Homo sapiens: one gene and its partners. The protein of the gene in region 2 interacts with the protein of the main gene of each other region in a pairwise test. Each region holds a gene or a part of one and is shown on either strand. Other genes may lie near its edges.

Evidence for each region.
Region 1: the proteins of OLFM2 (region 2) and GNB5 interact in a two-hybrid assay, tested with the Homo sapiens proteins (one large-scale study listed by IntAct).
Region 3: the proteins of OLFM2 (region 2) and NBAS interact in a two-hybrid assay, tested with the Homo sapiens proteins (one large-scale study listed by IntAct).

Annotation. Positions count from the first base shown.
Region 1 is NC_000015.10:52,184,807-52,188,458, reverse strand, and holds part of GNB5 (guanine nucleotide-binding protein subunit beta-5), read left to right. Parts: intron 1-3,652. UniProt on the Homo sapiens protein: Enhances GTPase-activating protein (GAP) activity of regulator of G protein signaling (RGS) proteins, such as RGS7 and RGS9, hence involved in the termination of the signaling initiated by the G protein coupled receptors (GPCRs) by accelerating the GTP hydrolysis on the G-alpha subunits, thereby promoting their inactivation.
Region 2 is NC_000019.10:9,926,400-9,930,051, reverse strand, and holds part of OLFM2 (noelin-2 isoform 2 precursor), read left to right. Parts: intron 1-3,652. UniProt on the Homo sapiens protein: Involved in transforming growth factor beta (TGF-beta)-induced smooth muscle differentiation.
Region 3 is NC_000002.12:15,271,295-15,274,946, forward strand, and holds part of NBAS (NBAS subunit of NRZ tethering complex), read right to left. Parts: intron 1-3,652. UniProt on the Homo sapiens protein: Involved in Golgi-to-endoplasmic reticulum (ER) retrograde transport; the function is proposed to depend on its association in the NRZ complex which is believed to play a role in SNARE assembly at the ER. Required for normal embryonic development.

The DNA of each region.
Region 1 (3,652 bases), on a different chromosome or scaffold from region 2:
CTCAGTGGTCTCAAATCTATTCTTGCTACACCAAAATGTAAAAAGAAGTTTCTCTGAGTGGTGGGATTATAGGTGATTATCTTCTTCCTTATATCTTTTTTTCCCCCAAACTTTCTACAATGCATATGTATAATATTTACAGTTTAAAAATGCTTTAAATTTAGTTTGTAGCTTGCCCATGTTTAACCAGTGAGGTCTAAAATGCTAGCTATGTGATACGACTTAAGGCCCATAGGACTCAAAAATTGGAGTCTCCGTTAAAAAATGGTGTTTTCCAGTAATATGCAATGACGTGAAGATGAAAATGCTATTATATAAAGTAGTATATGGCATATAATTCCAATTTGTTAAAAAGTACACACATATATACTTATAAAGATACTAGAGGAAAACATAAAATGCCAACAGGTCAGTTGTTGGTGTAGGGCATGTGGGCGATTTACTTTCCCCTTTTTGTGTCCTTCTGTTTCCACTTATTTATTTATTTATTTTTAATTTTTAATTTTCTTTGAGATGGAGTCTCACTCTGTCACCCAGGCTGGAGTGCAGTGGCATGATCTCAGCTTACTGCAACATCTGCTTCCCGGCTTCAAGTAATTCTCCTGCCTCAGCCTCCCGAGTAGCTGGGATTACAGGTGCGCACCACAACGCCAGGCTAATTTTTGTATTTTTAGTAGAGATGAGGTTTCCTTATGTTGGCCAGGCTGGTCTCAAATTCCTGGCCTCAAGTGATCCACCCGCCTTGGCCTCCCAAAGTGCTGGGATTACAGGCATGAGCCACCACACCTGGCCCTGTTTCCAGTTATTTATAATGAACATTATCAGCATCTTTTATAATTTGAAAAAATTCAAAATTTAGTTTGAGAAGAAAAACATTGCCTCTATCTAGATATGGAATATCGGCTATCTTTTCAACTTGTCTTTCTCTCCCGTGCCTCCCAGCCATCCTTCTATTCCTCCTCCACTTGGTGCCATAGGTTCCTCTCGCCTTCCATTCCCATAGCTGCTCCTCTGTCCGCAGCTCATTTCCTCTTCTCCAGAACATAGCAATCTCTTAACCTAGTTTGTTTTCCTGCCGTCCCTTCTCTCTCTCTCTCTGACCTACTTCTGGAAGCACAAATGCTGGAATAATCCACGTGGATGACACTGCTCCCTTGCTTAACAGCCTGTGGCTCACCGTCCTAATGCTATTACTGGGAGTGTTCAGCCCAACCTTGTTACTGGCTGCCTTTACAGGGCTGGGGAGTGGGATGCAACAGTTACCAAGCCCCACCATGGGCCAGGCTCTGGAGGGCAGGCCCTTTTTTGTTAACTCACCTTTTGTGACAAAACCATGCAGCTTGACCATGCTAGCTTGGAAATAGGGTTCCAAAGTGTGTATTCATGCTACTTACAGACTCAGCTCTGCCGCTGACCTTGAACTTGTTTAATCCCCCTGCTTTTCCTCAGCTGTAACACAGATGTCCTGCCTCCCTCCCAGGGAGAGGCGAGGGCTGGGCACTCTGTGGCAGTTGGTAGCTGGTTTCCTTGCGAGCTGTTGTCCCTAAGGGATGCCCTGTACACCTTTGTTGCCCAGAGGTCTCGAACTGTGCTGACTGCCCCTTTGCTGTAAGAGCTCAGCCCAACTCATGAGCCCCCATTATCTCTCCAGCCCCAGGGTGGGCTCCACATGGCAGACGTTCCTCATCAGAAATGTCCCCAACTGTCACCTCCCCCATAAATGCATCCCTCTCAGATTTGACTCTGTTGAAATGTTCAGACCAGCGCCCCCAATTATCTTTATGTTCAGGGGTTCATTTCTTTGAATCTTGACGGGGCTCACTCTAGAACACCTACCAAATTGACAGGGCCACACTGGCTGCTCCCTTCCCCCTTAACCGCTTTGTCCTCATCTCCAGCAATGGCAACATAACCCCTCGGTCTCCCAAAGAAATCTAGGCCACAGCACCCACATCTCCCTCTCCTCAACTCCACATGCCAAATCCAGCTCCTTCTCTCTTTCCTAAGCATGGTCCAAGTCCATCCCACTACATTGCTTTGTGGGCCTAAAAGGAAGAGGCTGTAGCACAAACCAAGACTTAAGGAGTTTACTTGAGCCAAAGTGAGGACAGATTCCTGGAAGGCCCAGACCCAAGTAACCTTGGACATTATCTCTGTTTGGCCTTTGTTACAAGCAGTTTTTTTAAAAAGGCAAAAAAGAGGGACCGGGAGTGGGCTGATACAAAGTTGTTAGGAATTCTCATTAGTTTACAGAAATAACATTGATTAGCGACTGGTTATACATTGTTACACTACAGGGTGTGGGTTATAGTGTCCAGTGTGGCATTATTAGGTTATTTTTTAGCTACTTGTGCCAATGGCAAGCAGTTTCAAGAGATGAGGCCAGGTGTGGTGGCTCATGTCTGTAATCCCAGCACTTCGGGAGGCCGAGGTGGGTGGATAACTTGAGGTCAGGAGTTTGAGACCAGCCTGGCCAACATGGTGAAACCCTGCCTCTACTAAAAATACAAAAATTAGCCTGGCATGGTGTCTTATGCCTGTAATCCCAACTACTTGGGAGGCTGAGGCAGGAAAATCGCTTAAACCCAGGAGAACGAGGTTGCAGTGAGCCAAGATTGTGCCACTGCACTCCAGCCTGGGAGACAGAGAGATACTGTCCCAAATAATAATAATAATAATAATAATAATAATAATAATAATAATAAAAAGATGAATACACAGCTCAAAGTGGGGACTAGAACGTTATTGCTGTCTCATTTTCATGATTCTCTGGGCCTGATAATTTAAAAGGGCTTGCATTCCTCAGATAAAAGTTACTTTCTCACCTTTAGTCCATGACTTCCTCGCGTCTTGTCTGAACCGTTGCCATAGGCTCCTCTTATGCTTTCTTTGGCATCCCCAGCCTCACCCTGCCCCTACCCATGTCCCTCCTTCCCAAGGCAGCCACTGTTCCCGCTATTGCTGCCACTCAGGGCAGCATGACCTCGCTGGCACACTCCCTGTATTACCGACCTTGAGCTAAGTGCTTTACGCACTGACTCTTATCATTCTCTTGACAACCCCAGAAGGGTAGATTTTAAGATCTCCACTTGACAGATTAGCAAAACCAAGCTTCAGAGAGGTCAGCTAACTAGCCTCAGTGGTGGGCCGGGACCAGGCAGCCAGAGCCTGTCCCTGTAACCACTAGATGCTTGTGCTGCCTCCCTGCAGCGGCCTGGGCCTGTCTGTTGACTTCCTTGTGAACAGGCAGGGACCCTGGGTCTTTGGCTGTCAAATGTTTAATAAGTGAGTGCTTGCCTTGCACGGAACCCACACCACACTTACTCAGGCCCCTGGCTTTGGTTGGGGTCAGGCTCCATCATTTGCTGACCCTTATCTTTAAAAGTTCACCCTGAGGGGAGGAATGTTTTTAAAAGTTTTAAGTTATAGCATCCATTACAAAAACGTTTTCCATTGTGAAACCCCACAGAATTGATATTGTGCTGCAAGGATCAATCCTGCCTGACGCAGGTCTGCCAGCTGCCAAAAAACTGGTTAAACGTGTTAAGTTCAGAAAACCTATTGTCTGATGCTTTCTCACTGATTAAATGAGTTGTATTGACCCAGCATGTTGTAATAGTTGAAAGGTTATAAATTAACTGCATATACTCTA
Region 2 (3,652 bases):
CTTTTTTTTTTTGAGATGGAGTTTCGCTCTTGTTGCCCAGGCTGGAGGTCAGTGGCGCGATCTCGGCTCACCGCAACCTCTGCCTCCTGGGTTCAAGTGATTCTCCTGCCTCAACCTCCCGAGTAGCTGGGATTACGGGCATGCACCACCACATCCAGCTAATTTTGTATTTTTAGTAGAGACGAGGGTTCTCCATGTTGGTCAGGTTGGTCTCGAACTCCTGACCTCAGGTGATCTGCCTGCCTCAGCCTCCCAAAATGCTGGGATTACAGGCGTGAGCCACCACGCCTGGCCTGGTATGTGTGGGTTTCTGATGAGCCCAGTGGCTGGTGTGGGCAATGACTTTGTAGCCCCAGGATTCAGTGTTAGTGCCTGAGAGACAGTAATGTGCTGTTTTCATTTGTTCCTACATGCATGTATTCATTTATTTTATTTTATTTTATTTTATTTTATTTTGAGACGGGGTCTCACTCTGTCGCCCAGGCTGGCGTGAAGTGGTGCAATCTCGGCTCACTGCAACCTCCACCTCCCGAGTTCAAGCTCTTCTCCCGCCTCAGCCTCCCAAGTAGCTGGGACTACAGGCACACACCACCACACCCACCTAATGTTTACATTTTTAGTAGAGACAGGGTTTCTCTATATTGTTGTTCAGGCTGGTCTCAAACTCCTGACCTCAGGTGATCCACCCGCCTCAGCCTCCCAAAGTGCTGGGATTACAGGTGTGAGCCACCGCGCCCGGCCCATGTATTCATTTAGAGAGCATTCATTGAGAGCCTTCTGTATCTCAAGCGTTGTACTATGCAACAAGCACTGGGTGGTAGTTTGTGCTTTCAAGGGGTGGAGTAGATTTAACTTCTGGAGGAGTTGAGTCTGGCTGTGTTGGGAAAAAACTTGTCATGACAGGAACATTTTATTCCCATATCTAGGGAACTCTTGTCTGAGAACATTGACATGTCCTCCCTGCCAAGGTGGAAGCCCATTCTATCTCTTTTTTTCTTTTTGAGATGGGGTCTTGCCATGGTGCCCAGGCAGGCCTCGAACTCCTGGGCTTAAGCAATTCTCCTGCCTCAGCCTCCCAAGTAGTTGGGATTACAGGTGCACACCACCTCAGTGTGTCTTGCAACTTCATCCATCCAGAGTGCAGCCACAAACCAAGAAGTCACCAGGAAAGAGCAGAGAGTAGGGAGAGTAGATTCCATGAAGACTGTATACAAAAGCTTATTCTCTTTCTCTCTTTTTTTTTTTTTTAGACAGAGTCTCACTCTGTCGCCCAGTCTGGAGTGCAGTGGCACGATCTCATCTCACTGCAACCTCTGCCTCCTGGGTTCAAGCAATTCTCATGCCTCAGCCACCCAAGTAGCTGGGACTACAGGCGTGCACCACCATGCCTGGCTAGTTTTTGTATTTTTAATAGAGACGGGGTTTTGCCATGTTGCCCAGGCTGGTCTTGAACTCCTGGCCTCAAGTGATCCACCCACCTTGGCCTCCCTCAGTGCTGGGATTACAGGCATGAGCCACTGCATCCAGCCTGGAAAAGGTTGTTCTTGTTGCTCCTGGGGACCCAGTAGACTCTCGGTCCCAGTTTACTCTTACTTTACACATAGTTCCAACAATCCTGGGCAGCTAGTAACTAGCCTTGCTTAATAGATGAGAAGACAGGTGTCATTGCACAAGAAGAAAGAAACAAAAAGGCAAAGCCAGTTCAGCCATCAAATGAAATGGCAAATAGCTTCTCACTTTTTAGGCTCTAAGAGAGTCCTGGTGAATCCCAGGAAGAATACATGATGAGCACATGGTGAGCCGGGTTCTTTTTAAATTTTATTTTGTTTTTTTTTTTTTAAGACGCAGGGTCTTGCTCTGTTGACCAGGCTAGAGTGGAGTGGTGTGACCACAGCCCACTGTAGCCTCAACCTCCTTGGCCCAAGTGATCCTCCTACCTTAGCCTCTCAAATAGTTAGGACTACAGGTGTGTACCACTACATCCAGCTAATTTTTCTCTTTCTTTTTCTTTTTTTTGGTAGAGATGGGGGTCTCACTATGTTGCCCAGGCTGGTCTTGAACTCTTGGCCTTAAGTGATCCTCTTGCCTCAGCCTCCCAAGGTGCTGGGATTACAGGCATGAGCCACAGGGCCCAGCTAATTTTTGTATTTTTAGTAGAGACAGGGTTTCACAATATTGTTCAGGCTGGTCTCGAACTCCTGACCTCAAGTGATCCGCCTCAGCCTCCCAAGGTGCTGGGATTACAGGCATGAGTCACTGCACCCGGCCCACATTGTTTCTGTTCCTAATTTCTCTAGTAATTTCTATGAGAAAGACACTGATAGAGGCACTCACTCACTCAGGAGGGACGTGACACAGTCCGCTCTGAATGGCTGTCAGTTGCCAAATTTGGGAGACAGATGCAGCCGACACATGGTACAAAGTGCCAGATGTCAAGAGTCAAGTGGGCTTCCTGGGGGAGGTGGCATTTGAGATGGGCCTTGAAGGATGAGCGAGTGAAGACTGGAGGGTGGACACAGAAGAAAGTCATTGGTCATGCTGACAAGACCTGGTGGGTTTACCCTTATTTTACATGATTCTAACCATGTTTAAAAGAGGGGAAGTTTCTGGAAATGGGAACTAGGGTAAGTGTGTGGTTGATGCCTATGGTGGGTGCAGATAGGAGAAGGGAAGTGAGCTTGAAAAGGTTGTGATCTGACTGTAAAGGCTTCGAAAGCTGGGTTAAGGATTTTAGAATTTATTTATTCATTTATTTATTTATATTTTTTTCGAGACAGAGCCTCGCTCTGTCGCCCAGGCTGGAGTGCAGTGGTGCGATCTCAGCTCACTGCAACCCTCCCCTCCCAGGTTCAAGCAATTCTCCTACCTCAGCCTCCCAAGGAACTGGGTTAACAGGCGCGTGCTACCACGCCTGGCTAATTTTTGTATTTTTAGTAGAGACAGGATTTCACCATGTTGGCCAGGCTGGTCTCAAACTCCTGACCTCGTGATCTGCCTGCCTCGGCCTCCTAAAGTGCTGGGATTACAGGCGTCAGCCACCGTGCTGGACCTTATTTATTTATTTTTAGAGATAGAGTCTTGCTCTGTTGCCCAGGCTGGAGTGCAGTGACGCGATCACAGCTCACTGCAGCCTCAAACTCCTGTGCTCAGGCAATCCTCCCACCTCAGCCACCTGAGTCACTGGGACCACAGGCGTGTGCCACCATGCCCACATAATTTTTTTTGTTTATTTTTTGTAGTGACAGGGTCTCACTATATTGTCCAGGCCGGTCTTGAACTCCTGGGCTCATAAGATCTTCCTGCCTCAGCCTCCCAAACTGCTGGGATTACAGGCGTGAGCCACTGCACTTGGCCTAGAATTTAGTGAGCTGGTAATAGTGACTCATAGAAGAGGTTGTGCATGTTTAAATGGAAGACTTTAAAAATTTTTAATTGTGGTAAAATACACATAATATAAAATTTATCACTTTAGTCATTTATTTATTTATTTATTTATTTTTGAGATGGAGTCTCGCTCTCTGTCCCAGGCTGGAGTGCAGTGGCGCGATCTCAGCTCACTGCAAGCTCCGCCTCCCAGATTCAAGCGATTCTCCCATCTCAGCCTCCGGAATAGCTGGGACTACAGGCGGCCGCCACCACGCCCGGCTAATTT
Region 3 (3,652 bases), on a different chromosome or scaffold from region 2:
AGTAAGCAGGGATACTGGCTTAATTATCAATAGAAATGAGTTTGAAGGTTAGAAAGTAGGCTAGATAAGAGGTTCTCAATAATTTTTCTGCTACAATCCAAAGGAGACAACATGTTTCCCATTAGAAGCAGTGGTTTACGATGGCAATGAATCACAAACGGTGGGAGTTGGAAAGGCAGCACGTGCAAGGTGGGGGAAAGGGGAGTGGGTAAATACCTATCTAATTCCAGGTTGAGTAACACTGGGCAAGGTACCAGAAGGACTTTTTAAACTGTATGATTACCTGGGAATTTTTAAAGAAGGATCCTGGCAAACTTCTTGACAGCATTTCATATGAGAGAGAAGTATTTGCCATGCATTTATCTATGGATGTAGCAGTACTAGCTATTGACAGCAAGTGGAAAGTATAAAACACAAAGGCTAAGATTATACATATGCTCCCCATTACTAACCACCTAATACCAAGCAAATTGTGTTCTGACCTGCCTTTCAGCCTCTTTTACAACCATTTTCCTGGATTTCTAACCCATTCACTTGTTCTCTGTCCCTTCTATAAAAATGCTTATAACAGCTGAATTGACAAGCAATAGAGGAGCAACTCTAATCTGATTCAACAACAACAACAACAAAAAAAAGCATTTAGATTTGGTACAAATACACTTTAAACATTTGCTTCCTTTTTCCTTCTGCATATTAATCATCTCAAATGGCACACAAATTCACTCTCTGACTGCAGGACATAATACTATTTGTAAATATTTTCCCCAGAGATTCTAGGAATTCTGCAAATGTAAATGGCAATGGAATGACTGTTACCATGAAAGTGAAGAGCCTTCTCTGGTATGTTTTACCAGTGGATTGGGCACTCAGTTCAGGCCTTGGGAATATTCCTTTCTGAATTCTAGTATCTGAACAATTGCTTATTGTTCTTGTTATGCACTCGAGAATTAGCTTACCAGTTCTTTCCAAAAATTTCTTTCTAAATTAAATGTGGGTACACATTTGAAAACTGCACACTGTGTATGAATAGTACACATTTATTTTACATTTTTAACATCATGTACAAGCTGTGGGAACATCTGGTGTTTTGCAAATTTGGGCAAATCCAGCTGCATTTCCTCTTCCAAATATGTTCTCTGACATTTGCAGGTTGTGTTTCATTTTGATTTTTATACTCTCTCTCTCTCTATCTATATAGGGCAGCATTGTGTGCTTTCAAACATGCATTTTTTCCAACTTTATACTTCTCCTTTCTGAACTAAAAATTAAAAGCTTGCTGATTAATATGAGAAAAAATGTTGTGGTTAGACTAAAGATGTAAATTTTAAATGTATCTGTCTCACCTCTCTATAATTTACTTGAATCAGTAGAAAATCGCCTCTTGAGAACAGTTTACAATGAAGAAATATATATGCTTGCATTATACCATCTGAGCTAAGAGAAAGCAATACAGTAATTAGCAGACTGAATCTTTACTGAGTCAGGTGCACCTCTAACCCAACAAAATACACATATGTGCACCAACAACTGTGCCACATATTTTCAGGGGTTGGCGGACATCTTGAAAGAAGTATAAGGTTAAGAAACTAAAGCGATGAGAATGTGAATAATTTAATGTGAATAATTTAAAATCACCTAACTTAAAGCATGGTAAATAACAGCTAAAACGCAAATGGACTTTACATCCTACTCTTATACTTAATCATAAATAAAAGATTGCTGTTGCCAAGTCTAAAACTCTCTGTCCCCTCTACACACACGCTCACGATTAGCAGACAGCCCCAGATGATCATGCTGGCTTCCCTTTCTTCCCTCACATAAAATATTTAAAACAACCTCCAGCCTGAGGGTGGAGTGGAAAACTGCCTGGGAGCAAAGTCACCCTCACCATCCTGGCTGACCTGCTGGCCTGTTAGCCCCGAAGGTTAGTTCACAAGTCTCAGATCTGAGCTGGTTCCTTGGATTTTAAACTCCCAACTTGGATCAGTTCCTTCCCATATACAACCAGGTTCCTGCCTGGACTTTCTCATTTAGATTCAGCCCTGCTCTGGACAAATCCCAGGACATGCTGCTCCTACTGGGCTAAAAATGCTCAGGGCTCTCTGGTTCCACTGCTCTCCCACAGTTTCTCAAATGGTTCCAGGTCCCCTGACTCTAGTTGCTTGTTCTATGACTTCTTAGAGATAGCACAGTTCAATGGTTAAGAGAAAAGGCCAGGGGATAAATCTCCATGAGTTCAAATTGAGTTCTCTATTACCAACTTAACTTTGCTAAGCCTCAGTTTGCTCATCTATAAAACTAGGGTAATAATATTATCTCCCTCACAGATTACTCAGCCACAACCTCTGTCTCAAGGAAGCAGAAGTCTAAGAGAGATACCTGAAGCTAAACCACACAGCTGATAAGTGATAGGTTCAGAGTTCAAAGCCAGGTTTATATGTCTCCAAACACATTCTTTTCAAATACATTATGCTCTTGTCTTTTAAAATCACCCTTATTGGCCGGGTGCAGTGGCTCACATCTGTAATCCCAGCACTTTGGGAGGCTGAGGTGGGTGGATCACGACGTCAGGAGATCGAGACCATCCTGGCTAACATGGTGAAACCTCATCTCTACTAAAAATACAAAAAAAAAAAAATTAGCCAGGCATGGTGGCGGGCTCCTGTAGTCCCAGCTACTCAGCCTCCTAGCAGGAGAATGGCATGAACCCAGGAGGCAGAGCTTGCAGTGAGCCAAGATCATGCCACTGCACTCCAGCCTGGGGGACAGAGCGAGACTCCGTCTCAAAAAAAAAAAATCATCCTTATTTTTCTCTTTAAAAACAAAAAACATGATTACTCCTTTTTATAGCAGTGGTTGTAAAATTTAAAACCAAGATATATTACTAGGGTTGCAATAATAAGAAAATAAAGAAGTACTTGGTTATCCACAACTACTAATCTAGTGATTTGGTTAAAACTAGCATTCTTCACAGAAGTTGGAACCTCTGCCTGTGCCAACCTCCAAATGAATGATTTGCAATTCTTGGCCTTTACAGTCTATTTCCAGGATAATACTAACTAAAATAACAATCTTTGCGATAGGGTACTGGGCAGACCTGGTGACTTGCACGGAAGGAGAAGGCAACAGCAAAGATGGCAAGAGAGAAGATTAAACAGGAGCTCCAAAGGCAACAGAGTTCAGCAGTTGAGTCCAAATGCTAAGATTTTCCAGGAGAGAGAATGCCCAGAGTCCAAGTAGTGAAAAATGTCCATTTGTTTAGCAGCGGTGTCTAGGTGAGGGGGCAGGAAAGGGGAGGAGGAGAACCCACATTATCTATTCTGAGTGAGGCTACACATTGCTGAGGGATTGAGTGCAGTCAAAGGAGGCCAAACTGATGGAGGAGACATCAGAAAATGCAATATGCACTCTCTTCAATAATTCTATCACCAAGATATATACTGCATGATATGAATAACATCTTTTTTATTTTTTTATGTTATTATTTTGAGACAGAGTCTCACTCTGTCACCCAGGCTGGAGTGCAGTGGCATGATCTCAGCTCACTCCAACCTCCGTTTCGTAGGTTCAAGCAATTCTCCTGCCTCAGCCTCCCGAGTAGCTGGGACTACAGGTGCATACCACCACACCCAGGTAATTTTTTTTTTTTTGG